4 linked regions of the Homo sapiens genome follow. The protein of the gene in region 3 interacts with the protein of the main gene of each other region in a pairwise test. Each region holds a gene or a part of one and is shown on either strand. Other genes may lie near its edges.

What was found.
Region 1: the proteins of PRR35 (region 3) and ARMC5 interact in binary tests that used the Homo sapiens proteins (3 or more experiments, as listed by UniProt).
Region 2: the proteins of PRR35 (region 3) and GIGYF1 interact in binary tests that used the Homo sapiens proteins (3 or more experiments, as listed by UniProt).
Region 4: the proteins of PRR35 (region 3) and CFAP68 interact in binary tests that used the Homo sapiens proteins (3 or more experiments, as listed by UniProt).

The regions. Positions count from the first base shown.
Region 1 is NC_000016.10:31,455,488-31,462,525, forward strand, and holds the start of ARMC5 (armadillo repeat-containing protein 5), read left to right. Parts: upstream 1-4,037; coding exon 4,038-4,512; intron 4,513-6,434; coding exon 6,435-6,542; intron 6,543-6,643; coding exon 6,644-7,038.
Region 2 is NC_000007.14:100,691,247-100,698,268, reverse strand, and holds the start of GIGYF1 (GRB10-interacting GYF protein 1), read left to right. Parts: upstream 1-4,018; 5' UTR 4,019-4,159; exon of another isoform or gene 4,160-4,332; intron 4,333-7,022. UniProt on the Homo sapiens protein: May act cooperatively with GRB10 to regulate tyrosine kinase receptor signaling. May increase IGF1 receptor phosphorylation under IGF1 stimulation as well as phosphorylation of IRS1 and SHC1.
Region 3 is NC_000016.10:556,059-563,395, forward strand, and holds the start of PRR35 (proline-rich protein 35), read left to right. Parts: upstream 1-4,335; 5' UTR 4,336-4,603; intron 4,604-4,838; exon of another isoform or gene 4,839-5,737; intron 5,738-6,511; exon of another isoform or gene 6,512-6,696; intron 6,697-7,197; 5' UTR 7,198-7,236; coding exon 7,237-7,337.
Region 4 is NC_000011.10:111,882,517-111,886,483, reverse strand, and holds the end of CFAP68 (cilia- and flagella-associated protein 68), read right to left. Parts: coding exon 3,886-3,967; intron 3,349-3,885; coding exon 3,282-3,348; intron 2,714-3,281; coding exon 2,604-2,713; 3' UTR 509-2,603; downstream 1-508. UniProt on the Homo sapiens protein: Microtubule inner protein (MIP) part of the dynein-decorated doublet microtubules (DMTs) in cilia axoneme, which is required for motile cilia beating.

The sequences.
Region 1 (7,038 bases), about 31 Mb from region 3:
GTAAGCAGTGTAAAAAGGACCTGATCATGACAATTATTCTTTGAGTGCCTACCATGCATGTGCTGGGCTCAGGCCCTTCACTCAAACCCTGGCTCGTACTCTCTGAAGGGTCCTGGGTGAGGAAGATGTCAAGAACCCCATACCTCATCACTGACTCCCTGCCGGGGGCATGTGCTGCTCCCAGCCTGAGATGAGTGCTGTTCATTACACGTCATCTCCATGAAGCCTCCCGCATTTGCTCCAGGAAAGGCCCGTTCGCCACCCTGGCGTCATTCACTCTGTGTTGCTGATATTGAGTCTGTTTCCTTCAAGGGGAAACAGGCTACCCAAGGACTGGGGCTGCTGCCTTCATTTCTGTAACCTCCGGGGGGAGCTCTTGTGTGAGCCGCATGATGGATGCTTGCTAACAGCTCTAGGCAGGAGGCAGAGGGAAACTGAGGTCTGCCGAGTCATCCCTGGCCCAGGTACTTCATGCGTGTGCAGTGTTGCTGTGGAATCTTTACCACAACCTCCCATCCCTGTTTTACAGATGAAGAAACAGGCTCAGAAGAGGCAGACGTGTCTAAGATCACACAAGCCTTGACACCATGAGCTAGAAGCTGAGGGTGAGGTCACTTCACATCCCTTCCCTTTAGGTTCTACTCTATGTGGGTAGCGTCCTCGACACAGAAAGCCTGATAAAAGATGGCAAAATTACCGGGCGTGGTGGCTCATGCCTGTAATCCTAGCACTTTGGGGGGCTGAGGCGGATGGATCACTTGAGGTCAGGAGTTCGAGACCAGCCTGACCAACTAGAGGCTGGTCTTTAGTAGAGGGTTGGTGAAACCCTCTACTAAAAATACAAACACTGGCTGGCATCGTGGCGCAAGCCTGTGGTCCCAGCTACTCGGGAGGCTGAGGCAGGAGAATCACTTTAACCCAGGAGGCGGAGGTTGCAGTGAGCTGAGATCGTGCCACTGCACTCCAGCCTGGGCAACAGAGTGAGACTCCGTCTCAAAAAAAAAAAAAAAAAAAAAAAAAAAAGATGGTAAAATTTGGGGGCAGCAGACCAGATGCCTGGACTGATGGTAGGACTGTCCCACAAGGGGTGGACATTAGGTCCTTGAAACAGACAACTCCCTCCCCCAGCAGGGAAGGGAAGGGCCTCAGAGCTTGGTGTCTACTCTGAGCACAGGCAGGTGCTTTGGGAAGCCTACCCCTGGCTCTCACATACACAAAGTTATGCCAGTAGAAATATATGTTTGGGCAATGCCCAGGCAAAAGGGCCATGTTCAGTCCCCAATGTCCAGGCACAAAGGACTCTTCGCCACTCTTCCCTCTCTTGACAGACTGGCAGAAAAGGAGCCTGGGGAACTTGGAAGGGAAGGGGATAAGGCAGGGGAAGGGGCAGATGACAAACCCTGGGCCTCTTGCCCCTGCCCAGAAATGCAACAAAGCAACCCCTGAACTCAACATACAGGTCTGTTCTGGGGCCCCCACCACCCTAGCATCATCCATAATGATAGTTCTCACGTGCTGAGAGGACTTTTGAAGGGCTCACACACCCAGGGCTCACACAATGGTCCCAAGTTCAAATTCTCTGGCCCATCTGCCAGAACACAGGATCCCTCATGGTTCCCTCTGGAGGTTAGGAATGCCCCGCCTGCGCGCTGCCATGGAACTCCTCACAGGGGCTTGCCTGATTTCTGGTCCCATTCCTCTGGGAAGAGGTAGCTGTTGTTCTAGGTGTGATTAACCCCATCACTCCCTAGGCCTGTGAAGGGACTGTGTCAGCTACTGCCAGATCTGCAGGCAGCTGGGTCCACGCTGGATAGCTCCCGCCATTCCAAAACTCTCCCTTCAGCTGGTCGACGTTCTGTCTTTGTAACTTCAAAGAACAAACCTAAGCCCTCTCAGCTGACTGGGCTCTTTGAAGGCAGTGATCACAGATCTAGTGTTCTGATTCTTCCAGACTGGGGCTCCTTTGTTAAAAACAATTTTTAAATTTGTTATTTTTTTGAGACACTCTCTGTCGCCCAGGCTGGAGTGCAGTGGCACGATCTTCGCTCACTGCAGCCTCCGCCTCCCGGGGTTCAAGTGAGTCTCCTGCCTCAGCCTCCCGAGTAGCTGGGATTACAGGCGAGAGCCAACACGCCTAGCATTTTTTTTTTAGTAGAGACAGGGTTTCAATATGTTGGCCAGGCTGGTCTCGAACTCCTGGCCTCCAGTGATCCGCTAACCTTGGCCTCCCAAAGTGCTGGGATTACAGGCATGAGCCACCATGCCCAGCCCAGACTGGGGTTCCTTGACTTAGCAAAGGGTTGGGCAAAAAGATGTGGAGACCCCCTCGCCCCAACCGAATCCCATCATTAGCTCTAAAATCAACAGCCCTAAGGGAGCAGAAGGGGGTCTGCTTAGAGATCCTGGTTCCTTCCATTTCCTTGAAGTCCGAACCAAAGTCAGAGCTGAAGTTTCAGCTAAAATTGAAGCCAGGGCTATTTGCAGAGGCTGCCGCCCTAGTGCGTCCGCTGGTGCTGGCCCAGGTTGGAGCTTTGCGCTAGGGCCCTGCCACACTGCAGGCAGACGCAGGGGTGCTGCTGTGGGCCGCCTAGTGGATGGGCAGGTGGGAGCTGTGGCCGAAGGTCTGGCCACACTCACCACCAAGCATCAGGTTTCCGGACTTTGTGACTGTGCTGGTGCCGCAGCAGATTCCAACTGTGCACAAAACTCTTACTACAAACAAGGCACTTAGAGGCCTTCTCACCCATGTGGAGCGCAGGTGCTGCAACAGGGTGGAGCCAAGGCTGAGACTCTTGCCGCAGTCCCCTCAGCGGTAAGGCTTTTAGCGGTGTGAGCGCGCTGGTGCTGGATCAGGTTGGAGCTGACGCTGAAAGTCTTACCACACTAGGCACAGGCATAGGGCCGAAGCGATGGTCACACTCGGGGCAGGAGTACGGCTTTTCACCGGTGTGTACCCAGTGGTGCTTAACCAGATCAGAGCCACATCGGAAGCTTCTGCCATAACCCGGACAACGGTAAGGCTTGTCACCAGAGGGGCTGCCTTGGTGGTGAATGAAGCCGGGGAGGCAGGCTGTGGTCAGTCCACATTTCCGGCACTCGCAGGTTTTGGGGCTTGTAGACGGTTGCTCTTGGCAAAGGCTTCTTCCTCCCCAGGGCTAGAGCCTGACCATTTTCCGGGCGGGCAGCTGCCCCGACCACACCAGGAAGGGCTGCTCAGGCGGAGCCACCTCGCAATCCAGGGGTGACCTGGGGGCTCCCCGGGACGCGAATGTCCCGCTCCCCCGCCGCCCCGCCCCGTCCGGATTCTCCCTCGCCTCTTCTGGCGCGGCCGACTGCGCTGCGAGTGAAGAACTCCCCGTTTCCTAGATGCCAGCTCCTGAGCTCACGAGCACGTCCAGAGCGGAGGACACTCGGGACACCGGGGTCCAGCTCCGGAAACGGAAAATTCCACAAGCCCGTCACTCTAGGAAGCGGCAGCGAACGTTCTCGGTAGGTTTAACCCTCTTCTTCCTCTGACCGAGCGAGGGCTCCCCGTCTGCGGCGCGGTCAGGACCCCGCACTTTCGGCCCGGCTCGGGGTTCTCGGAGTCCGTCCCAAGGCCGGGCCGCACCACCGCTGGGGGGCAGCGAAGCGAGCCTAGAGGAGAAAAGGCGGTCCCCGCCGAGTGCACGCCGGGGGCGGGGCACGGCACGAAGGCTCCGTGGTCGGACTTCTGGGCTGTTCGGAGGCCCTGGCCCACCTGGAGGGCCCTGGAAGAGTTTCCAGCGCTTCCCGAGGTAGGCGTGAGAAGCTCGACGCGGACCACATCTCCCTCATGCACCGCCCGCACGTCCCAGGATGCGCTGCGATTAAGGTACTGCCGCGCCTCGTGTGCAAGGACAGACTTCCGGGGTCGAGAACTACAACTTCCGACTTGCATCACTGCGGTGGCGCTAAACAGCGTCAGCGAGGCGGTGCCCGACGATTTCCCTGTCTTCCAGTTCCGCTCCCTGGGATCAGCGGCGAGAAGCGGGGCGGAGTCTGAGGCCCGAGCCAAGATGGCGGCTGCGAAGCCAACCCTCACGGACTCGCTCTCGTTCTGCCTCGCGCAGCTCGCGGCGGCGGCCGGGGAGGCTCTGGGTGGGGAAAAGGACCCAGCGACCAACGAGACACCCCTGAGCCGCGCGCTCCTAGCCCTCCGCACGCGCCACATCAAGGCAGCGGGGGGAATCGAGCGCTTCCGGGCACGCGGCGGGCTCCGCCCCCTACTCGCGCTGCTACGGCGAGCGGCTGCAGCGGGTTCCGCCCCGTCCCAGGCAGGCCCCGGCTCCGCCCCCTCGTCGGCCGCGTCGGGAGCTTCTAGCCCCGCCCCCGCGTCGGGCCCCGCCCCCTCCGCTGTGTCGTCGTCTAGTCCTACGCCGCCAGTGCGCCTGCGCAAGACGCTGGACTTGGCGCTCAGCATCCTAGCCGATTGCTGTACGGAAGGGGCGTGCCGGACCGAAGTGCGCAGACTCGGAGGCATACTCCCTTTGGGTAAGTGCTCCGCCCCCGTTTCCTAGAAAGATTAGGTTTGCAACTCCCTTGCTCTCTAGACCCGGGCAGTCTGGAGTTCTTTGTGTCCTATCCCGGAATAACGTGCTTTGTGATGGCGCATCGCTCCTGTTTCTCAATCTGTTGTGCCCCGTGACGTCACTGCACTCTCTATAGATGAGAGAGAGCCCTCCCAGACCAGATAATTGTAGCCATTATCTAGGAATTGGTTGTTGAGGACTTCTTTCGAAGCTGGACTAGCGGAGGCCAAAGAGTTATTTGGTGATTTTTTCAGATGATTCTTACCGTCCAGTTATGATGTTCATAGCAGACATTCAGTGCCCAACTATGTGTCCGGCCCTGTGCAAGGTTCTGAAGCCCCACTGATGAGCTGGAAGGTGTAGTGGTTCAGAAAGGGAGATCTGCAAAAGTCACCTAACCCCTCCGAGGCTAGGATTCCTTGTAAAATGGGGCAATAATAGCTACCTAAAAAAATCAGAGTGGGGAGAAAACGAAGTACAAATATGGCACGAATATGCAAATATTCTAAGCATGATACGTATTTCAAGTTATTAAAAACTAGCATAAGCTGGGTGCAGTGGTACGCGCCTGTAGTTCCAGCTATTTGGGAGGCTGAGGCGGGAGGATCCCTTGAGCCTAGGAGGTTGAGGCTGCAGTGAACAATGACTGCCTGTGAATAGCCACTGCATTCCAGCCTGGGCAACGTAACAAGACCTCGTATCTTAGAAAACCAAACAAATCAGTAGTCGCTTAGGAAGCAGGAAAAAATAAATAAAAATAATTAAAACCAGCACAGTAAGAACAAATCCTAGCAAAACATAAGCTTTTCTGTTTACCAGCTAAATTGGTGCCTCCTAGTGGCAATGTGTGAAAGCAGTTTACATGTCACTACCTGCCTTCCACGAAATTATGCTAGTTTTGATGACATCTTAACTTTTCGGATAAAGGGAAGCATTAATATATTTAAAATTTACATAAAATGTATCTGGACCATATATGTTTGACAAGAGCTTTGGTTATTAAATAACCCCCATCATTCAGCTACTATTTTTCATCTTAAATATCTTCTGAATTTATCTGCTTCTCTCTCTTCCTACTTCCATTGTGTGCCCAGAGACTGGTATCTCTGTGCTGTGTGATGCCAGTAGCTGGGTTGGTTCAAGCTATTGTCTTTTCATGCTTGGACTATTATGACAGCCTTTTGACTCCCCCCTTCCTATTCTTTCCCCATAATGCATTCTCCCTATGGATGTCAGATTGTATCGTGTCACTCCCCTTCATAAAACCCTTGTGTGGCCCCCAGTGCCTTCACATTCAAGTCCTGACCCCTTGGCCTGACATTTGAAGCCTTTCACAGACACTGTATCTTACCTCTGGGCCTTTGGAAAGGCTGCTTCCAAACCTGAAATGCCTTCTCACACCCCCATCCACCGTGCTTCTGGCAAATACCTTCCTGTGTACCCCTCCAGACCCAGCCCGAGTGTTAGCCTCTTTCTTTTTATTTTTTTGAGATGGAGTCTTGCTCTGTCATCCAGGCTGGAGTGCAGTGACACGATCTCAGCTTACTGCAACCTCTGCCTCCTGGGTTCAAGCAATTCTCCTGCCACAGCCTCCCGGGTAGCTGGGATTACAGGCGTGTACCACCATGCCCAGATAATTTTTGTATTTTTAGTAGAGATGGGGTTTGGCCCCGTTGGCCAGGCTGGTCTTGAACTCCTGACCTCAAGTGACCCACCCACCTTGGTCCCCCAAAGTGCTAGGATTACAGGCTTGAGCCACGGTGCCCTGCCGACCATTAGCCTCTTCTGAAAGCCTTCCAGGCCCTCTCAGGCCACATTCTCCAGGTTATTGATGTGAGAGACAGTAAGGGGTAGAACCCTCACAAGCCCAAACTGTCGTTGCAGTGACCATTCTTCAGTGCATGAAGACAGACAGCATCCAGAACCGAACGGCCCGTGCCCTGGGGAACTTAGCCATGGAACCTGAGAGCTGTGGGGACATCCACTGTGCTGGTAAGAGGCTGTGAGGTTGGGGTCTGCTAGGGCTTGGGGCAGAAGAAAGGCTTGAGTGTCTGTCCTTGTTCACCCTCTGTGCTCCCCTTTCCTGCCCTCAGGTGCTGTTCCCCTGCTTGTGGAGAGCCTGACAGCCTGCCAGGACTCGCAGTGCCTACAGAGCGTGGTGCGTGCCCTCCGTAACCTGGCAGACTCACCCCAGCACCGCCTGGCCTTGGCACAGCAGGGAGCAGTGCGTCCGCTGGCCGAGCTCCTGGCCACTGCCCCAGATGCTGCACTGACCTTAGCCCTCGTCCGTGCCCTCCTGGAACTCAGCCGAGGCTGCTCCCGGGCCTGTGCTGAGCAGCTAAGTCTGGGTGGGGGATTGGGCCCACTCGTCAGCCTGGCTTCCCACCCCAAGCGGGCAGTACGCGAGGGAACCATTCTGATCCTCGCCAACCTGTGTGCCCAGGGCCTGATTCGGCCTGCACTGGGCAATGCTGGTGGCGTGGAGGTG
Region 2 (7,022 bases), on a different chromosome or scaffold from region 3:
CTGGGCATCAGAGGGAGACTCCGTTTCAAAGAAAAGAAAGAAAGAAAAAGGGCCAGGAACGGTGGTTCACGCCTGTAATCTCAGCACTTTGGAAGGCTGAGGCAGGCAGATCACCTGAGGTCAGGAGTTTGAGATCAGCCTGACCAACATGGCAAAACCCATCTCTACTAAAAATACAAGACGCTTGAACCCGGAGGAGCGGAGGTTGCACCACTGCACTCCAGCCTGAGCAACACAGCAAGACTCTGTCTCAAAAAAAAAAAAAAAAAAAAGAAAAGAAAAAGAAAAGAAAGGCAGAGGCTGGCTGTTTGGTCTGCGTGAGACCACTCTTTCATCTCCATTAACCTTCCAAACAAATCTCTTTGTTTAGTTAAAAAGTTTGCAAATTTAGAACACAGACCAAGACATTTTACAGAGCAGCACCTGAACAAACAAAAACACATTAGCTCCAAATGATTTCTTTATTTTGAGATGGAGTTTCGCTCTTGTTGCCCAGGCTGGAGTCCAATGGCGTGATCTCTGCTCACCGCAACCTCCGCCTCCTAGGTTCAAGCGATTCTCCTGCCTCAGCCTCCCTAGTAGCTGAGATTACAGGTACGTGCCACCACGCCTGGCTAATTTTGTATTTTTAGTAGAGACGGGGTTTCTCCATGTTGGTCAGGCTGGTCTTGAACTCCCAACCTCAGGTGATCCACCTGCCTCAGCCTCCCAAAGTGCTGGGATTACAGGTGTGAGCCACCATGCCCGGCCAATTAGGTCCAAGTGATTTCTTTGTAATTTTTAAATTCTTCATGGGAGACTCACAGTTCTTTTTTGTTTTTTATTATATTTTTTCACTTTTCTCTCTTTTTGAGTCAAGAACTCATTTTGTTGCCCAGGCTTCTGGGCTCAAGGAAGGACAAGGTTTATTAGCAGCATGAGAACTGACTAATACAATCACGGTGGAAGACCAGAGGGGTCTCCCTGGATCTCCTGGACACCAATGTGTGACTTTGGACAAGTAATCCCCACCAACTGTAAAGTGTGAACACTGATGCTGAAGTCAGCAGAAATTAAAGCCTATAAACTCCCTCTTTGAGAAAGGAAGCTAGCTGGCAGGGCACGGTGGCTCACGCCTGTAATCCCAACACTTTGGGAGGCCAAGGCGGGAGGATCACTTGAGGCCAGGAATTTGAGACCAGCCTGGCCAAAACGGTGAAACTCCATCTCTACCAAAAATACAAAAATTAGCTGGGCATGGTGGCGCCTGTCTGTAGTCTCAGCTACTCAGGAGACTAAGGTGGGAGGATCACTTGAACCCAGGAGGTGGAGGTTGCAGTGAGCTGAGATCACGCCACTGTACTCCAGCCTGGGCGACAGAGCGAAACTCCGTCTCGAAAAAAATTAAAATATTAAATAAAATATAAAAACAGACAGCAGGACAGGCACAGTGGCTCATGCCTGTAATCCCAACACTTTGGGAGGCCAATATGGAAGGACTGCTTGAGCCCAGGAGTTCGAGAACAGCCCAGGCAACATAGTGATACTTCAGTCTGTACAAAAATTTAAAAGTAAAAAATAATAGCTGGGCCAGGCACAGTAGCTCGTGCCTGTAATCCCAGCACTTTTGGAGGCTGAGGCAGGTAGATCACCTGAGTTCAGGAGTTCGAGACCAGCCTGGCCAACATGGTGAAACCCTGTCTCTACTAAAAATACAAAAATTAGCCAGGCATGGTAGCACACACCTGTAATCCCAGCTACTTGGGAGGCTGAGGCACGAGAACTGCTTGAACCTGGGGTCGGAGGTTGCAGTGAGCTGAGATCACGCCACTGCACTCCAGCCTGGGCAACAGGGTGAGACTCTTTCTCAAAAAAAAAATAAATAATAAATAATACCCGGGTATGGTGGTGTGCCACTCCCTGCAATCCCAGCTACTCGGGAGGCTGAGGAGGGAGGATCACTTAAGCCTAGGAGGTCGATGCTGCAGTGAGCTGATTGTGCCACTGCACTCCAGGCTGGGCAGCAGAGCAAGACCCTGTCTCTTAAATAAATAAAATAGTTAAAAAAGGAAAACAGACAGGAAAACTCCAAGTGCAGAGAAGCCTAGTGGTACTTGGTGGGGGAAACAAAAGTTGTTCCAGGTATAATAGTTCCTGAAGTCAACACTCTATCATGGCAAGACACCAGGCACTCAAATTCCAAGTCATGAACTTACCTTTTCCTTGTTTTGAGGATTACATTGTGTTGGGCGACAGCTCTTTTAGGCTTCTGGGAAGTAAGGTATACATTCTGGAGTAACTTCCAAAGAAAAAGGTGAAAGCATACGCGGAACTTTTGAGCCTTGAAAAAGTTCAGCGAGTCATTCTTGAAAAGTCCTTTTTTTAAACAAAGGGGGTTTCAGTCACCTCACATTTGCATAGCAGTTTCTCTCTTGTCAAAGCCTTTCACATTCACTTATTTTAATTCTTACAGCACTCAAGGAAGAGTGTGGAGTTGGGGGTCGGGGGTTGGGTGCAGAGCAGTGTTAACATCCTTCTGTAAGAGAAACGGAGGCTTTTGAGAGGCCAGGCGTGGCGGCTCATGCCTGTCATCCCGGCACCTTGGAAGGAGGATCCATTTGGGTCCAGGAGTTCCCGGCACTTTGGAAGGAGGATCATTTGGGTCCAGGAGTTCAAGACCAGCCTGGGCAACATGGGGGAAACCCTGTCTCTACAAAAAAAAAAAAAAAAAAAAAAAAAAAGCTGGGCGTGGTGGTGTGCCCTGGTAGTCCTAGCTACTCAGGGTGCTTGAGGCAGGAGGATTGCTTGAGCCCAGGAGGCGCAGGATGCAGTTAACCGTGATCGCGCCACTGCACTCCAGCCTGGGCGACAGAGCAAGACTCTGTCTTGGAAAACAAACAAACAACAAATACAATAAATTAAAAAAATTAGTTGGGTGTGGTGGCACACAGCTGTAGTCCCAGCTACTCAAGAGGCTGTGGCAGGAGGATCCCTTGAGACCAGGAGTTCAAGACCAGCCTGGGCAATGTTATGAGACACGCCACCCGCCCAGTCTTTACAGAGAATAAAAAAGTTATCTGGGTGTGATGGTGCACACCTATAGTCCCAACAATTCAGGAGGCTGAGATGGGAGGATCGCTTGAGACACGGGAGTTGGAGGCTGCCGTAAGCCGAGATCGGGCTAGTACACTGCAGCTGGGGCAACAGAGTGAGACCCTGCTTCAAAAAAATAAATAAATAGGGGCCGGGCGCGGTGGCTCACGCCTGTAATCCCAGCACTTTGGGAGGGCGAGACAGGCGGATCACTTGAGTGGTCAGGAGTTCTAGACCAGCCTGGCCAACAAAAATAAGCCAAACGTGGTGGTGTGTGCTTGTAATCTCAGCTACTCGGGAGGCCAAGGCATGAGAATCACTTGAATCCGGGAGGCGGAGGCTGCAGTGAGCCGAGATCGCGCCACTGGACTGCAACCTGGGGGACAGAGCAACACTCTGTCTCAATAATTAAATAAATAATTAAAAAAATAAAGAGGCTCCTGAGAGTCAACTTATTTGCCTGAGCCACTTATTTCACACATCCCAGGACGCCTGATGAAGGGTTCTGGATTTTATTGTCTCCTGTCATCCAGGCGGGCTTCCTGGAGGAAACCGGACCGCCAGGGAGGCCGCGGCCTCGGTCCCAGAGGTCGCGCGTCGCGGGGCCGGGGGAGGTGGGGGAGAGGAGGCCGCTCTGGGGCCGATCCCGCCCGCAGCTGGGGGCCCCCGTCACGTGACCAGCCGGGCGCCCAGGTCACGTGTCGGGGCGGGGAGGGGGGGGGCTGTCGGGGGCGACGGGCGTCCGGGCAGTGGCGCGCGCGGCACGCGAGCAGCGCACGAGGAGAGGTGGCGCGGGCCGGAGCCGCGGAGGGAGGCGGCGGCGGCGGCGGCGGCGGCGGCGGCGGCGGCGGCGGCGGCGGCGGCGGCGGCGGCGGCGGCGGCGGTGGAAGGGGCGGCCCCGCGGCCCCGCGTCCGCGTCACGTGGTGCGAGGCGGGCAGCCATCTTGCTACAAACACAAACACAGAGGAGCGGCCGCCGCGGGAGCGCCAGCGCCCCCTCCCCCGCTGCTAGCCGCCGTCGCCGTCCCCGGCCCCCGCCCGCCGCGCGCCGCCCACGCCCCGGGACCGGACCCTCGCGCCGCCCGCGGTAAGCGCCCAGTGGCCCCGCGGCCCCCGGCCCGCAGCCCAGCCCCGGGGCAGGCCCGCCCCCGACGCCGCGGCGGCCGCGCCGAGCCCGCGAGCTAGAGAAGCGCCGGAGCCAGCGCGCGGGCCGCCAGCGAGGACCCTCCCCCGTCTCCTCCCCGAGGCCGCCGCAGCCCGGTGCGTCCTCCCGCTCTCCCGCCCGCTCCGGCCCATCCCCGCCGCCGGGACCCTCCCCCAGAGCCGGCCAGCCTCGGGGAGGCCCCGGGAGGCCGGCGCCCGGCTTAGGGGGCGACCGCTCGCCCCCCTCGCACCTGGCGCCCCTCCCTGAAGGGCACGCCGTCCTCCCGGGCCGGCGCGCTGCCTTCCACCCCCGCGCTCCTAACGGTCGCCCCCGGGCCCCTGCCAAGCCCTGCCCTGGGCCGCCTGGGGGCCCCCGACCCTAGCGTCCTAGGGTGGCCGGGCCCCGCGCTTCCCGGAGTTCTCCCCAGCGCGCCTTTGGGTTCCCCTCGGAACGAGCTGGGCCTTGCGGTTCCCCAGGTCCAAGCGTTCCACGACTTTGGCCAACATGGAAGCCTTGCCCTCCACCCAGGCACCTCGCCTGGGTCCTCCTCACCTCTGTTTCCTTTCGCTCCGGCGATCTTAGTGCTGGGTCATTGGGGTCTCCTTCTTCCCAGTTGCTCGGCCGCGGGAAATACCTTCCTTAGCAGAGACTGCTTGTCCTCCCCGTCCCAGGCCAGGCCCTTCTCAGCTCATGCCCCTCCGTGCAGCAGCTCCCTGGCCACAGCTCTCACACTTTGCCTTAAAAAAAAAAAAAAACAAAAAAATTTCCGAGTAACTTTTTAAAAGCCCCTCGTCTCTCTTCTCTGTTATACAGTCATTACTCGCATTCCCGGTCAGACTCCAGGTCTGTTGCATCCTAGTGCTAGGAACTAGGAGATGCTACATAAAGACTTGTTAGCTGGATTGGATTTTTTTTTTCCAGCCACCCAAGCCTTACTTCCCTCCTGCCTCTCAAAGTGTCGTTCTGGAAGATCGTCAGCTTTCCCACCCTCTTGTGCACTGCCTCTTCGAGTCTATATAGAAGTTTCAATTTAGAACCCCGCCAACCCCTCGCCTTTGGCATGGAAACACCATCGGTGGTACCAGTAAGGGTCTCTCCTTTGCTGCCGACATGGGGGATTTGGGGTTCTTTCTCCTTCCCATCTTTCCTGTGCCCTTTGCAGACCTAGGCTAGCCACCCTCCACCAGGCTAGCCAGCTCCAATCTGATTTTCTTAGATTGTAGGTCTTGGTCCCCCAGCGGTCTGTCGTGCCATTGGGAAGGATTTGAGGGTAGACCTGGCCTTGGTGTCCCTGCCATTGCCTGGGGACCAGGGGCCCTGAGGGTCCCACGTGGTGGTTAGTCAAGTGGACCATGTGCTTAAACTTCTGGACTAGCTTTTTCTGCTGTTGGACACATCAGTCTTGTGTTCGTGATCTGATGCGTTAGCCCTAACTTTTACATCTGCTATTGGAATTTGGGAATTAAAGAAAAATAGCCCACTTTAGAGGAGAGAAGATGAGAGGAGGAGGCTAGATGAAGGATGTTGAAAGTCTAACAAATGTAAAATGGCTTCAAACTCACAGAATAATGCTTGCGAGTTTGGGATGGTTACTGCTACCGTGCGCACCTCCAGTCTTGCATAGTGTCAAGGATGTCGGGGCACGCTGTCGGAGCAGCTTCCTCCTTCTTTTCCCTGGCTGGAGCCCAAGGCTGGGCAAGTGGGCAAAAGGGATCACAGGAGGTAAAGAGTGAAAATCCTTTGAAAACTGTTAACTTGTAGACAATTGCCAAGCGGTGGTGTGATTTGCTGGGATGGCTCAGAGAGGAGAGAGCTGGGATAACCGACCAGCCGCGAAGAATGCGGGTTTGCATCTCTTTTTTAAGCCTCAGCGTCCTCACCCTACCACGCTTGGAGAATCTCCATCCTGAGAAAGGGCCAGGTCCCCTCCAGCAGGCCTGGGGCTGGGCGGTTGTTCCAGTGTTGAGGAATTGGGGACTGTGCTTCTGTTTAAGTGGCTCTGTTCTGTGCCAAGGCACAGTGCTCTGTGTTGGAGCTAATTTTAGGGGTGATGGAGTGAGGAGATAATGTTCTTAGCTGAATGTGCACTGGGACCGCCTGTTCTCTGTCTTTTCTTTCTCTCTTGAGTTCTGAGCCCCAGAGAGCAGGCTCCCTTTCCCGCGCGCCCTGGCGCCTACTGGAGCACCCGGGCCCAGCGTGTCCTCGCCCCTTGTCTCCGGCAGGGGGCAGTCTTTCAAAAGCATTGATTCAGATGCTGGGGGAGTGAGGGTAGACAGGCCCGAGAAAGAGAAGGGGTGGGGAAGGGGCGAGGAGCCGAAGTAGGCCGAGGCTTGAGGGCAGGGCCAGGGCGGGGGACAGGCTGGAAGGGGCCTGTGAGAAGGAGACCCTGAGCTGAGAAAGCTCAGCCGGGTAAGCTGAGACGGGCAGGTGGCAGTACCCCAGCCCCCGCCACCTCCTGCTCTTACCTTCATTGGACAGGGATCAGATACCTGGCCCTGAGAGCTTGCAATAGACAAACTTAGGCAGTTTTTCTTAAAAAAAAAAAATCTATTCTTTTCTCAAAGATTTTCTCCTGGCAGGATTTCAGATTTCCCTCGTGGGACAGTGTAATTAGGGAATGATGTCCCTGCTGTTCAGAGAGGAGAATGACCCAGCGTGCACACACCTGCCTTCCCTTGCCTTCCCCTTGGCCCAGTAGACCCCCAAGGGCTGTGCCCATGCTCGTGGCGCAGAGGAGGGTGTCTCAGCACTGGCGCACTTGGTATCTGGAGTCACATAGCTCTTGGCTGTGGGGCTGCCCTGTGCA
Region 3 (7,337 bases):
CTTGTTGGCGCTGCTGGCCACAGCCTTCCCGGGGTGGGCAGTGGCAAGTTCTCACTTATGAGGCATCGCTGTCAGAAGCATTTAGTGTACAAATTAGCCGTGGCCTCCTCGCCTCCTTCCACAGCTCTGGGCTCCAGGCTGACTGGGCCGCGGCTCCAGGCCCTCTCCCGCCTGCCCGGGGCGCACTGCTGCCCAGTGTGGACCCCTGGCTGCCTGCCCATGTCCTGGCAGGAGTGCCCGCTCCCCACTGGCCGGCCAGGGCTCCTCTAGGACCCCGACCTAGACCTGGGCAGGGGTGGCCATGGCAGGCCGGGGGTGCTCAGTGAGGTTTTGGGGGGTGGGAGGCCAAGGCCCAGGACCCGGATCTACCCCAACAGTGGCCAGCCCTGGTGCTGAGGGCTATGGGGGGGCTGGACATGGGGCCCCACCACCCCACCTGCCAGTTGGAGGCCCCGCCACCCCGCCCGCCAGCCCGCCTGCCACTCAGGCGGGGAAAATCATCTGTGACAGGCCCAGGAAGGCCAGCCCCGGGGGCCGCAGAGAGACACACACAGCTCCTCTTCCCAACATATGGCTGCTGTCGGCCCCGGGCGCTGCTGGCCAGTGCCAGGCTCGGGAGCCGGTGGGGGCTCGAGCAGCCTCAGCCTCCCGTCCCACCCGCCTGGCTGGCTGCCCCCTCTGTCAGTCTACATCCCAGCCTCCTGGGACGGGGCTCACTCCCACCACAGCAGCTCAGCCCTCCAAGGAGCGTCCTGTACCCTCCTCCGTCCCAGAGGCTCAGGACACACAGAGGGTCAGCCCCGCACCCGGCCCAGGGTGGCCAGTGACCCGGCACGTCTATGAGAGTGTAGTGCATGGGGAAGGGCCCAGCTGGGGTCTTCCAGAGCCGGGAGGCGGGTGGGGAGGGGACTCTCTGGTGTGGACTCTGGGATGGTCAGGGCTGCTGGGGAGGACTATCCCTGGTAGTGCTCGAGCCGGAAGACTCCTGGAGCCCCCATTCAGGCGCCTCCTAACAGGGCCCCCGTTCCCTCAGGTGGATGGACCCAGGGACCCCAGAGCTCCGCAGGCTCTTCGTGTGCCCCCCACACCCTTGGGCCGTTGTCCTGGGCGCTCTGGCCCACTCGGTTGCCCAGCCCCCTCCGTTCTCCCCTGGCACCCCCACTGTGTACCCGCCCATCAAGGCCAGCAGCCTCAGGCTGGTGCCGAGGGCCCTCACGTGTATCCATGACCCCTTCCGCCAAGGCTGGGCTGCCCCTCTCAACCAGGGATCCTCAAGTGGGCAGCAAGGAGGAAGCCCCCAGGAGGCCTATGCTCTGTAGACCTGGGGTTCTTGAAGTGCTCAGGGTGGCCACAGGCCCTGGGGTCCGTTATTGAAAGGACAGACATCAGCTGTGTCCGGACACCTTGCAAGGTACTGACCCCACGTGGGGGCTCCAACCTGCTGCCGCTGGATAGATTGCCCCGGTCTCAGGACCTGCGTGGGGCCTCCAGCCTGGCTGCAGCCCTGACACTGCCCTCACTGTGTGGGTGCAGGCACCCCGGCCCCTGCACCTGTCCTGACACTGGCTGTGTGTCGACACTGAGGGGATGAGACAGGCCTGCCCCCGGGCACTGGCCATGCCGAGCGCTGCCTCCGCTGCCTTCTCTGAGCCCAGCTCTCCGTCCTGCCCGTGAGCCCCCGGCACAGAGTCCCATTGTTAATGGAGGTGACAGGCGGGCAGCCGTGGGCAGACCGGGCAGAAGAGGTTAATGGCCAAAAATGAGCTTCTGGCTGGAGGCAGAAGGAGGGGCCATGGGGTCCCCATCCCACCCTGCACTGGGACTGGCTAAGGAGACATCAGGGCACCCACTAGGACCAGAGCAGAAGTGCCCGGACACTGAGCACCCCACTGCCCATTCTGCAGATGGGGGCCATGGGCCAGAAAGTTGGGGGGGTGGGGGCACAGGTGCCAAAACAGAGTCCCAGTCACTGCCTCAGGAAGCAGAAGCCACCTCTCCAAACCCAAAGTCAGCCCAGTGTGCAAGAGCTGGGACCAAGCAGGTGGGTCATGGCCACAGTGAGGAAGCTGACGTGCCCAGGGGGCCCTGTGGTTGCGGGGTGCTGGCACTGATATCCCGGCCTCGCCTGGCTGTTTGTGATGGGAACAGTCATCTGGGCACCCAGTGTACTGGCCTCACATGCTCCTCACCCCCCACCTCGTGCACGGCTGAATCTCAGGACCCCCACCAGCAGGTGCAGGGCCCCCTCATCCTCCCTGCCAGAGTCCTTCCGGGAGGCCAGAAACACGTCCAAGTTGTGCCCCGGGGCCCCTCTCGAGGCTGCCCCTCTTCTCTTCTCATGCAAACTTCTGCAAAGGCCCATCGGTGGTGAGGGGTGGAGGTGCTCCTTCAGCCTGCTCAGCGCTAGACACGGCCTTGTTCCCCCTCTGGGGCTCCTTGGTCCCCTGAGCTTCACTGGGCTTTATTTCCTGTATGCTGACATCTAGGTGCTCCAAGACCAGGCCTCCCTGCTCCCTACTTTCCTCCCCTGGACAATGGCCAGAGCCTCCAGCCAGTTGGTCTCCTGTGCTGTCAGCTGTGGCCTCTTCCAGACCTTCAAAGGGGTCAGTCTCGGGCTGGCCACTGAGGGACTACTGGTGTCAGGGTGACCTTGGACCCTAGTCTCCCGGGGCAGTGCTCAGCTGAACACGTCCAGAGTAGAGTCTATGTACAGAAGCAGCCGGCCTCCTGGCCCCCGCTCTCCACGGGGCTGCTGGCGTGACGGCAGCCCAAGCTGTCTCCCGGCCCGGAGCTGCCTGCACGGTCAGCTGGTCAGCTGGGCCAGGCCAGGTGGGCAGAGAGAAGGCTGGCATGCTCTGCCATCCACAGCACCCCTCCCAGTCCCCTGCCCCGCCCCAGGGACTTCCCTCAGACGGGCGTGTGCGGCTGTGTCAGGGAAGGTGGCATGGAGGCAGGAGGGAGACAGAGCCCCACGCCCACCCCAGAACCAGGGGCTGTTCCTCATGGACCCTGGGTGTGCTCTACCAGGGGGCTCTGCCAGCAGCCGGACCGGGGCCACGGAGATGCTGCTGAGCTCTCTTCTCTGCCCCATTCGAGGGGTGACACCCAGAAGCCCCGTGGGGTCCTCCCTTCTTCCCCAAGGCACCCCTGACCCCGACCTGAGCTGGGGACAGCCCGGGAGCCTGCGGCTGAGCCTGCAGAGAGCCCCAGGTCCTGGGGAGCTATGTGGGCCGGGCTCCCTGTGCTGTTTCAGAGTCAGCAGGGAGTAGCACACTCCCCTCTGGCTGGAGACCCCGAGACGCCCGCCTACCGCAAGTGTCGGGTTTAGGACGTCTCCCCTGAGCGAAGTCAGGGGCTCTGCCCCAGCCATGCCTGTGTCCGGGAGGGAGCAGGCCGGTCAGGCGAACCTCCCCTAGGCCCCAGCTGAGCAGTGGGGCTCCAGGCCTTTACGTTCTGGCAGCTCAGGGAGCTGCTTGGAACTTGGTGCAGCCCGGGAGGTGGGGCTGGGAGCAGCCCTGGCCCTGCTTCTCTCCTCCACCGCCCCAGGTCCTCTCAGGAGGGGACTCCCGTGGGGAGGGGGTCTTTCAAACAGCAGGGAAGTGCGTGGCCTCGTGGGGCAGCGCTGAGGCACCTCCCACAGGAGCCGGGAGTGAGGGCTGGAGGGGTCCGCATCCAGGAAGGGGGAGGGTGCTGGAGACCAGCCCCAGGTGGAGGCGGTCAGCCGGCAGGGCGGGGTGCGAGGGGCCGGTCCGGGCAGCCTCCGGTTTAGAGGAAAAGAGAACGGAGGGCAGGGCTCGCCCAGGGAGGGCAAGGAAGGGAGCCCGGCTCCGCTGGCTCAGTCCGCGGCACCCCTGTCCCCCAGGACAGCCCCCAGGGGCCCTGGCTCGGGTGGGCCGGCGGCTGTCAGGGGCCAGAGCCCTGATGGATAAGCGCTGACGGCCCCTCTCCCGCGCCCCGCGCCGCTGACACCCATCACGCCGCGGCGGGGACCCGGGAGACCTGGCGGCCTCTGTGCACCCCCGCGGCAGCCTGCGGGCAACGGGGGCGGGAGGCGCCGGGCGCCCCTGACTCGGCCGCACACCTGCGCCGCAGTCCGCTCTCCGTCCGCTGCCTCCCGGGTTCCCGGCCGCTCCACCGCGCGCCCCGAGAGCTGAGCCGGTCCCGGCGCACGAGGCCGGTGAGTGCGCGCCAGGGGGCGGCGGGGGGCGCGCGGGCGGCGGGGGCGCGGGGTTCGGGCCGGGGGCTGCTCCTTCCCTCCCGCCGCGAGCGCGGTCGGAGGTCGCAGCGCCCCCCGGAGCCCGGAGCCCAGGCGCACGCGCGCCCGCCTCTGCCGCCAACTTCGGGAGGTGCGAGCGGCGTCGGGGGGACGCGGGCGGCGGCGGAGGCTGCGGGAGTCGCTGCCGCTCGAGGGACCGCGGACCCGGGAGGTCCGGCTCCCGGCGCCGGGCCTCAGTTTCCCCCACGGGAGCCGCATCCCACCCCCAGAGCCCCAGCGCGTCCGCGGGGTCCGAGTCGCGGCCGGCGCGGGGCGGGGAGGGGCGGGAAGTTTGCGCCCTACACGCGGCCTCGCAGACTTGGCGGCTCCGCTCCCGGCCGGGCGCAGGTAGGAGCGGCGGGAGCCGCGGGGGCGGCCAGTTGGGCGTCGCGGGGCCGGCTGGACGCGGGGCGCGGGGGCAGCGGGTGGCCAGGCGTGTGGGGGGCGCGGGGGGCGGCCGGGTCCCCCCCACCCTCTTCTCGAAGTCCAGGAGCAGCGCGGGGGGAGGGAGGGCCGCCCTCAGGGGCCAGGCGGGGAGGGCAGGGGCCGGGTCTGGGGTCTGGGGCAGACGCCTGACCTCGCGCTCGCCGCACCCGCCTGTGTGGGGCGCCCTGCGTTCCCGGGGGGGGGGGCAGCAGGATCTGCGGGTGGCCGATCAGGGTCCCCGGCTGCTGGGTGCCCCCTCCTGCCCTGTGGGGGTGCCTGTGCCCCCCGTGCCACCGGTTCTCCCCCAGCTCTCCCCCAAACAGGGACAGGTGAGTGGGGCCGGGTGTCGGGGCCTGGCACAGGGCTGCTGGCTGCCCCGGGAGCGATTGCCGGGTCCGGCTGGGACGCGCGTGTGAGTGCGTATGCGTTTGTGTGTGCGTGTGGCTGCTGTCCAGGGGTGTCTTTTGCTCTGTGTACACACACCAGGTGGGTGCCAGCTATCCTCCGGGTCCCCAAGGGGTCAGCAGCTGCTGAGACAGCCCCTTGGACAAGCCCCTGACCCGGGAGCCCCCGGTCCCTGCTGGGAGGCGGGATGGGTTGTGGCATCGGCTGGCACAGCTGTGTGGCTCCCAGGGCTGGGTGATCGATGGCCCGGCACAGCCGCCTCTGTCGCCGGAGCGCCCACACCCATTTGTCATCCACATGGGTGGGGGGGGCGGCGGGCAGGGAGAAGGGGCCGCCTCTGCACCCACCACCCAGTCCAGGCCGGGTCTGCAGCCCCTCGGGGAGCCCCAGGACCTCTCCTGGCCCAGCCCCTGCCTCCCGACCGCCACCCTGTCTCAGCCACAGACCAGCTGGTCAGCCTCTGCCTGCCCCTGCAGCCCGTGACTGCCCTGCAGGGCCCCAAGCCTTTGGACGAGTGGACTTCTCCAGCCCTGTTGGTCGTCCCCCCAACGGCACCAACACAGTGTTTTGGGGGCAGCAGACAGCAGTGCCCCAGCCCTACCCTGCTCAACCCACTGGCCATGCATGACCACGGGTGCGACCCCCAGCCAGGTCTGCGTGTGTCCTGGGGAGTCGGTGTGTAGGGCCTGTGTGAGCATGTGAGTGCCGTGTTGGAGTGGTTTGGAAAGCCCCCCCACACCTGGATGGGTGGTGAGTGTGTTATCACGGACAAGCAGCCGTGTTCACCGTGATGGAGTGTGAGGTGTGTGCAGCCAGGGCCCCGCACTTGGTGGCAGACTCCGTTCTGAGCTTAGGTGGCACAGAGGTGGCTTCTCCGGGCACTGGGTGAGGGCTCTGTGTGAGCCTGTGGGCTGTGTACACACACCCAAAGCCCGTGTGCGCAGGCGTGCTGTGCACCCCACACAGGCGCGTGCTGGGGCGGTGGACAGCCCAGGTGGCGGCCCAGATGGAGTGTGGCGCGCATACCAGCGCCGTGTGGGGCGTGGGGAGGAGCGGGTCTTGGCTGAGTGTGGCCGCTGCAGGCTCGGCCGCTGACCTGCCCGAAGCCACCCAGATGGAGCTGGGCTGAGCAGGTGGCTGAGCCGTGGGGCCATGCTGGGACGTCCACTCCCCACAGCCTGGCCTGGCCCCACATGAGACTGACCCCCTAAGAGACCCCCAGTGCCCACCTGACGCCCTGCTAGAGCAGGCTCTGTGCCGCCTTTAGACACACACGCATACACACGCACTCACACATGCATGCATGCACACATGCACACACAATGCACACACGTGCACATGAACACAAGCATGCACAGAGGCACATGCACACACAGGCGCACACACGTGTGCACACACACGCACATGCACGCACACACACGTGCATGCACACGCACACATGCACACACACAGACACACACAGGCACACACACACACACGCAGCATCATCCCACACAGACCCTTCCGTTGGTGTCTCATCTCAGTGCCTTTTCCTAGGCTTTGAACAGGCAGATTGGCAGGGGCCAGGGTTGCTGGAGGGAATGAGACCAGGAGGCTGACGTCCACCCGAAGTGAGCTCTGGTCACGCTGATTCTTTTAGCCACTCACATGCTGTGGGGAGATGGGTGTGGGCTGAACTATCCTAGAAATTGGCCAGCAAGTCGGCCTGGCCTCAGGGGTGGGGATGTGTGTAGGGTCAACCGATAAAATAAAGGACGCCTAGTTAAAATCGAATTTCCGATAAACAATGAACACCTTTCTAGTGTGCCTTTCCAATATTGCCTAGGCTACACTTAACACTCAGAAATGACGTGCTGCTGATCGGCGTCAGATGCAGCTCGCTGTCCTGGACTTTTTTTTTTTTTTTTGGTGCCCTGGACTTTGCTGCCACCCTGGAAGTGCACGTGGGGAGGAGCCGAAGGATGGGGCTCGGGGGGCACGTTGCAGGGCAGAGGCGGCGGGGTGGGGGGAGCACCCAGGCTCCAGTCCCTGGAGCCTGGGGAGCCATGGATGGAGAGGAGTGGGGAGTTAGTCAGAGGCAGGCTTGGCACTGACTGTGGCCCCATCTACAGGTGGCCATGGTGCCCGGCCCTGCCTCATAGCAGGCTGCCATGTCGCGGGAGGCGGGCTCATGCCGCGTGGGCACAGGGGCGAGGGCGCGGTCTCGGAAGCCCAAGAAGCCACACTACATCCCGCGGCCCTGGGGCAAACC
Region 4 (3,967 bases), on a different chromosome or scaffold from region 3:
GATCCGCCAGCCTCGGCCTCCCAAAGTGTTGGGAGTACAGGCATGAGCCACTGCGCCCAGCCATGTTATGTATATTTTACCTCAATTTTAAAAATGTGCTAGATACATAGGAAATAGAATAAGACATACGATATGTAAACTTAAAATATGTGTCTATAAAACAATATTTGTATTGTAAGAACATACAAATAAATTATTAGAATTAATGAGAACTCAAATTCTAAAACTGACCTAATGATGCAATACCGTTTCAATCAATATCCTAACAGTGTCATTTTATGGAGCAAGCTGATTCTAAATTTTATATGGAAATGCAAAAGTTCAAACATAGCTAATATTCTTGAAGAAAACAAGACGAAAGCATTTGATCTATTAGGTATTAAGATATAAAATAATAATAATGTAATAAAATTATCATAATTAAGATGGTGCAATTAAGGCATCATAACTAAGATAATACAAGGAATGACAATTAAACTAATAGAACATAGTAGCCCAGAAACAGACCTACATGTACATAGTTTATTTACAATAAAAATGGCATTGAATAGGAGTGAAAAAATTATGGTCTTTTCAATAACTAATGGTGGGACAACTTGATAGCCATTTAGAAAAAAAAAAGAAACTTCCTCACTACTGAGTAACAACATAAATTCTGGATCTATATCTCGAAACTAAAGTAACAAAGGTTTGAGAGGTAATATATGGGAGATAAAAAATATCTCCTTGCTTACGAGGACAACATATGGGCAGTATCTCTCAGTAATGCCCATATATTATAGTGTCTTCTTACACAGTAGATAAAAAAATAGGAAATACTAATCAGTTTAACCATATTAAAATTAAGACTGTTGATTTCCTAAGTTTACCAAACCTAAGCTATTCACAACCCTTTCTCAGTCTCTACTAGTTCCCTATTTTGACTCATTTTAAACCAGTTGGACCCTTATCTCAAATCCTTATAAATACCTTACTCTAACATCCTCCCTTTGAATCATTACCAAGACTCTGTGTCAAGTTGATGGTCTCCTTTGCTACACTACAATAGGTTTAATGAGCTTTGTTTAGTCAACAGGTTTCCTTAGTGACCTTTGTTGGGGGGGAGTAGACAATTGACAGTCCTTATCTTTTTGAGAAATATACTGAAATCTTTAAAAAAATTTTTTTTGGTAGAGATGGGGTCTTGCTATGTTGCCCAGGCTGGTTTTGAACTCCCAGCCTCAAGCTATCCTCCTGCCTCAGCCTCCCAAAGTGCTGGGATTAGGTGTGAGCCACTGTGCCCAGCCAGTATACCAAGATTTTTTTTTTCTTTTTCTTTTCTTTTTTTTTTTTGAGACGGAGTTTCGCTCTTGTCGCCCAGGCTGGAGAGCAATGGCACCGTCTCAGCTCACTGCAACCTCTGCTTCCTGGGTTCAAGCAATTCTCCTGCCTCAGCCTCCCAAGTAGCTGGGATTACAGGCGCCCGCCACCAAGACCAGCTAATTTTTGTATTTTTAGAAGAGATGGAGTTTCACCACATTGGCCAGGCTGGTCTTGGACTCCTGACCTCAGGTGATCCACCCACCTCAGCCTCCCAAAGTGCTGGGATTACAGGCATGAGCCACCGCACCCAGCCCACCAAGATTTTTATAGATTAAATTCTATTTCTAAGATCTGCTCCAAAATTAATTCAATAAGACAAAGTAGAAGTAGGTAAGATTAGTCATAAATAGTTGATGCTGGGTAATGATACATGGGAGTTCATTAGACTAGCCTGTCTACTTTTGTTTTACGTAAAATTCTCCATAATAATTTTAAAAAGTTACGTTTGTTTTTGTAGTCCTCAAGAGGGGATGTTCACTAAGGTCACAGCAAAGTTGCACTATACGACTCTGGCTTATACCCAGAAAGCATCTAGCCAAACCTAGCCTAAGTTATGCTAGATTCTGAGGTCTTGCTACGACAGAAGGAAGGGAAGACCACAGTGGTTGTAGACTTCAGAGAAATAATTCTTTTTTTTTTTTTTTTTTTGAGACAGAGTCTCGCTCTGTCACCCAGGCTAAAGTGCAGTGGCATGATCTCAGCTCACCACAACCTCCACTTCTCAGGTTCAAGCGATTCCCCTGCCTCAGCCTCCTGAGTAGCTGGGATTACAGGCGTGAGCCACCATGCTCAGCTAATTTTTGTGTTTTTAGTAGAGACAGTGTTTCACCATGTTGGTCAGGCTGGTCTCGAACTCCTGACCTCACGTGATCCACCTGCCTCGGCCTCCCAAAGTGCTGGGATTACAGGCATGAGCCACCGTGCCTGGCCTAAAATAATTCTTTTTAAGGCCCTTCTACAACACCCCAAATGTAGAACTGAGTTGCTGTATTAAATTTGACATTTAAATCTTGGTTAAAACAACAACAAAAAAAGGGATAAAGAATATTTACTGTGTTTTTTGCTTTATTTATTCAGAGAGTGAAACTGTGTTACAGTGAGCTAAATTTTTAGCTGTACTTAGAATGTGCTCCCTCCTACATTTCACTCTGGAAAAGTGAAGTATCTTATCATTTCTTAGAAACCTGGATGTGAAACTAGTCAATATTAAGATCTTATACACATCCTGAGTGATGCCCAATTTAAGGCTTTGAATAGCTATTCATGTAAGTTGACTTTTCTGTGCATTTGTATCGGGGAGGATCCAGTTCAGGTTGATGTCCTGGGAACCAGTGAGGCTCTCGCTTAAATCCTGAGGGAAGAAAAAAAAAGGAAGGAAAGACAAATGAAAACAGTCAACACTAAGGAGTTTTAGTAACTGATCTTGCTCTTATTTCTAGGGAATAGACAGTAAGTCCTGTTAAAATTGAAGAAAAAATCCTGTTTACTCATTCATGTAGTTATTCACCTTTTTTTTCTTTTTTTTTTTTGAGATAGAGTCTCACTCTGTCACCCAGGCAGGAGTGCAGTGGCTTGATTTCTGCTCACTGAAACCTCCACCTCTCGGGTTCAGGTGATTCTCCTGCCTCAGCCTCCTGAGTAGCTGGGACTACAGGCATGCGCCACCAAGCCCAGCTAATTTTTGTATTTTTTTTAGTAGAGATGGGGTTTCACCACGCTGGCCAGGCTGGTCTCAAACTCCTGACCTCAAGTGATCTGCCTGCCTCAGCCTCACAAAGTGCTGGGGTTACAGGTGTGAGCCACTGCGCCCAGCCTCACTTATTCACCTATTCAGTTTACTTTTATTTGAGTTCCTTCTATGTGCCGGTCACTGAGTTAGGTTCTGAAAATGTAAGAATTTGAAAAAACAGTCCACGTACTATGTGTTGAAAGTGGCATTTTGTTGTTGTAGCTTGTATCATATGTTGTTTCAAAGTAGTGTCCAAACTGGAAAGAAAAATTAACAGATTAAGAATCTGGAAGTCTACAGCTAACATCAGGAAATAAAGATCAATATGACATGAATTCTCACGGACTGTCATATTTTAGATGGACTGAGTTCTATGGTGTTAGTCTATATCCTTCTAACTTTCACATGTTTTGTACGTTTGTTTGTTTAGGAGCGATTTAAGTGCAAGACTCAGATAAATGACAAGTCTAGATAGGCAAGGACCAGGGGAAAAGCTAGTCTAAGTCAGAAGACATTATAAATTTCTGTAGACTAAGAGATAAAGTCCAAACAGAAGTAAGAGAAAAAGAGGACTGCCCTTCCTTTTGAAACCTTACAGATAATAAAATATTCAACTTGACAGTAAAGTAGCATAGGTGGTTCAGCTGCGGACTGTTCCTCTGCCCCAACCACTTCACTGAAAACTGAGAGATCACTGCACCAGAAGTTATTACATCCCTGCATTTCAAATGGCCACTACATTTCTTTTGCCAACAGAAGGAAACAAACAAACAAAAAAGACAAAGTTAGATTACCTGGGAAGGCAAGGGTTTGGGCTGCACGATATTCCTCAGGTCATATCTTTCCTGGTTCCAGTTGCCCATCAGGGTACGGTTT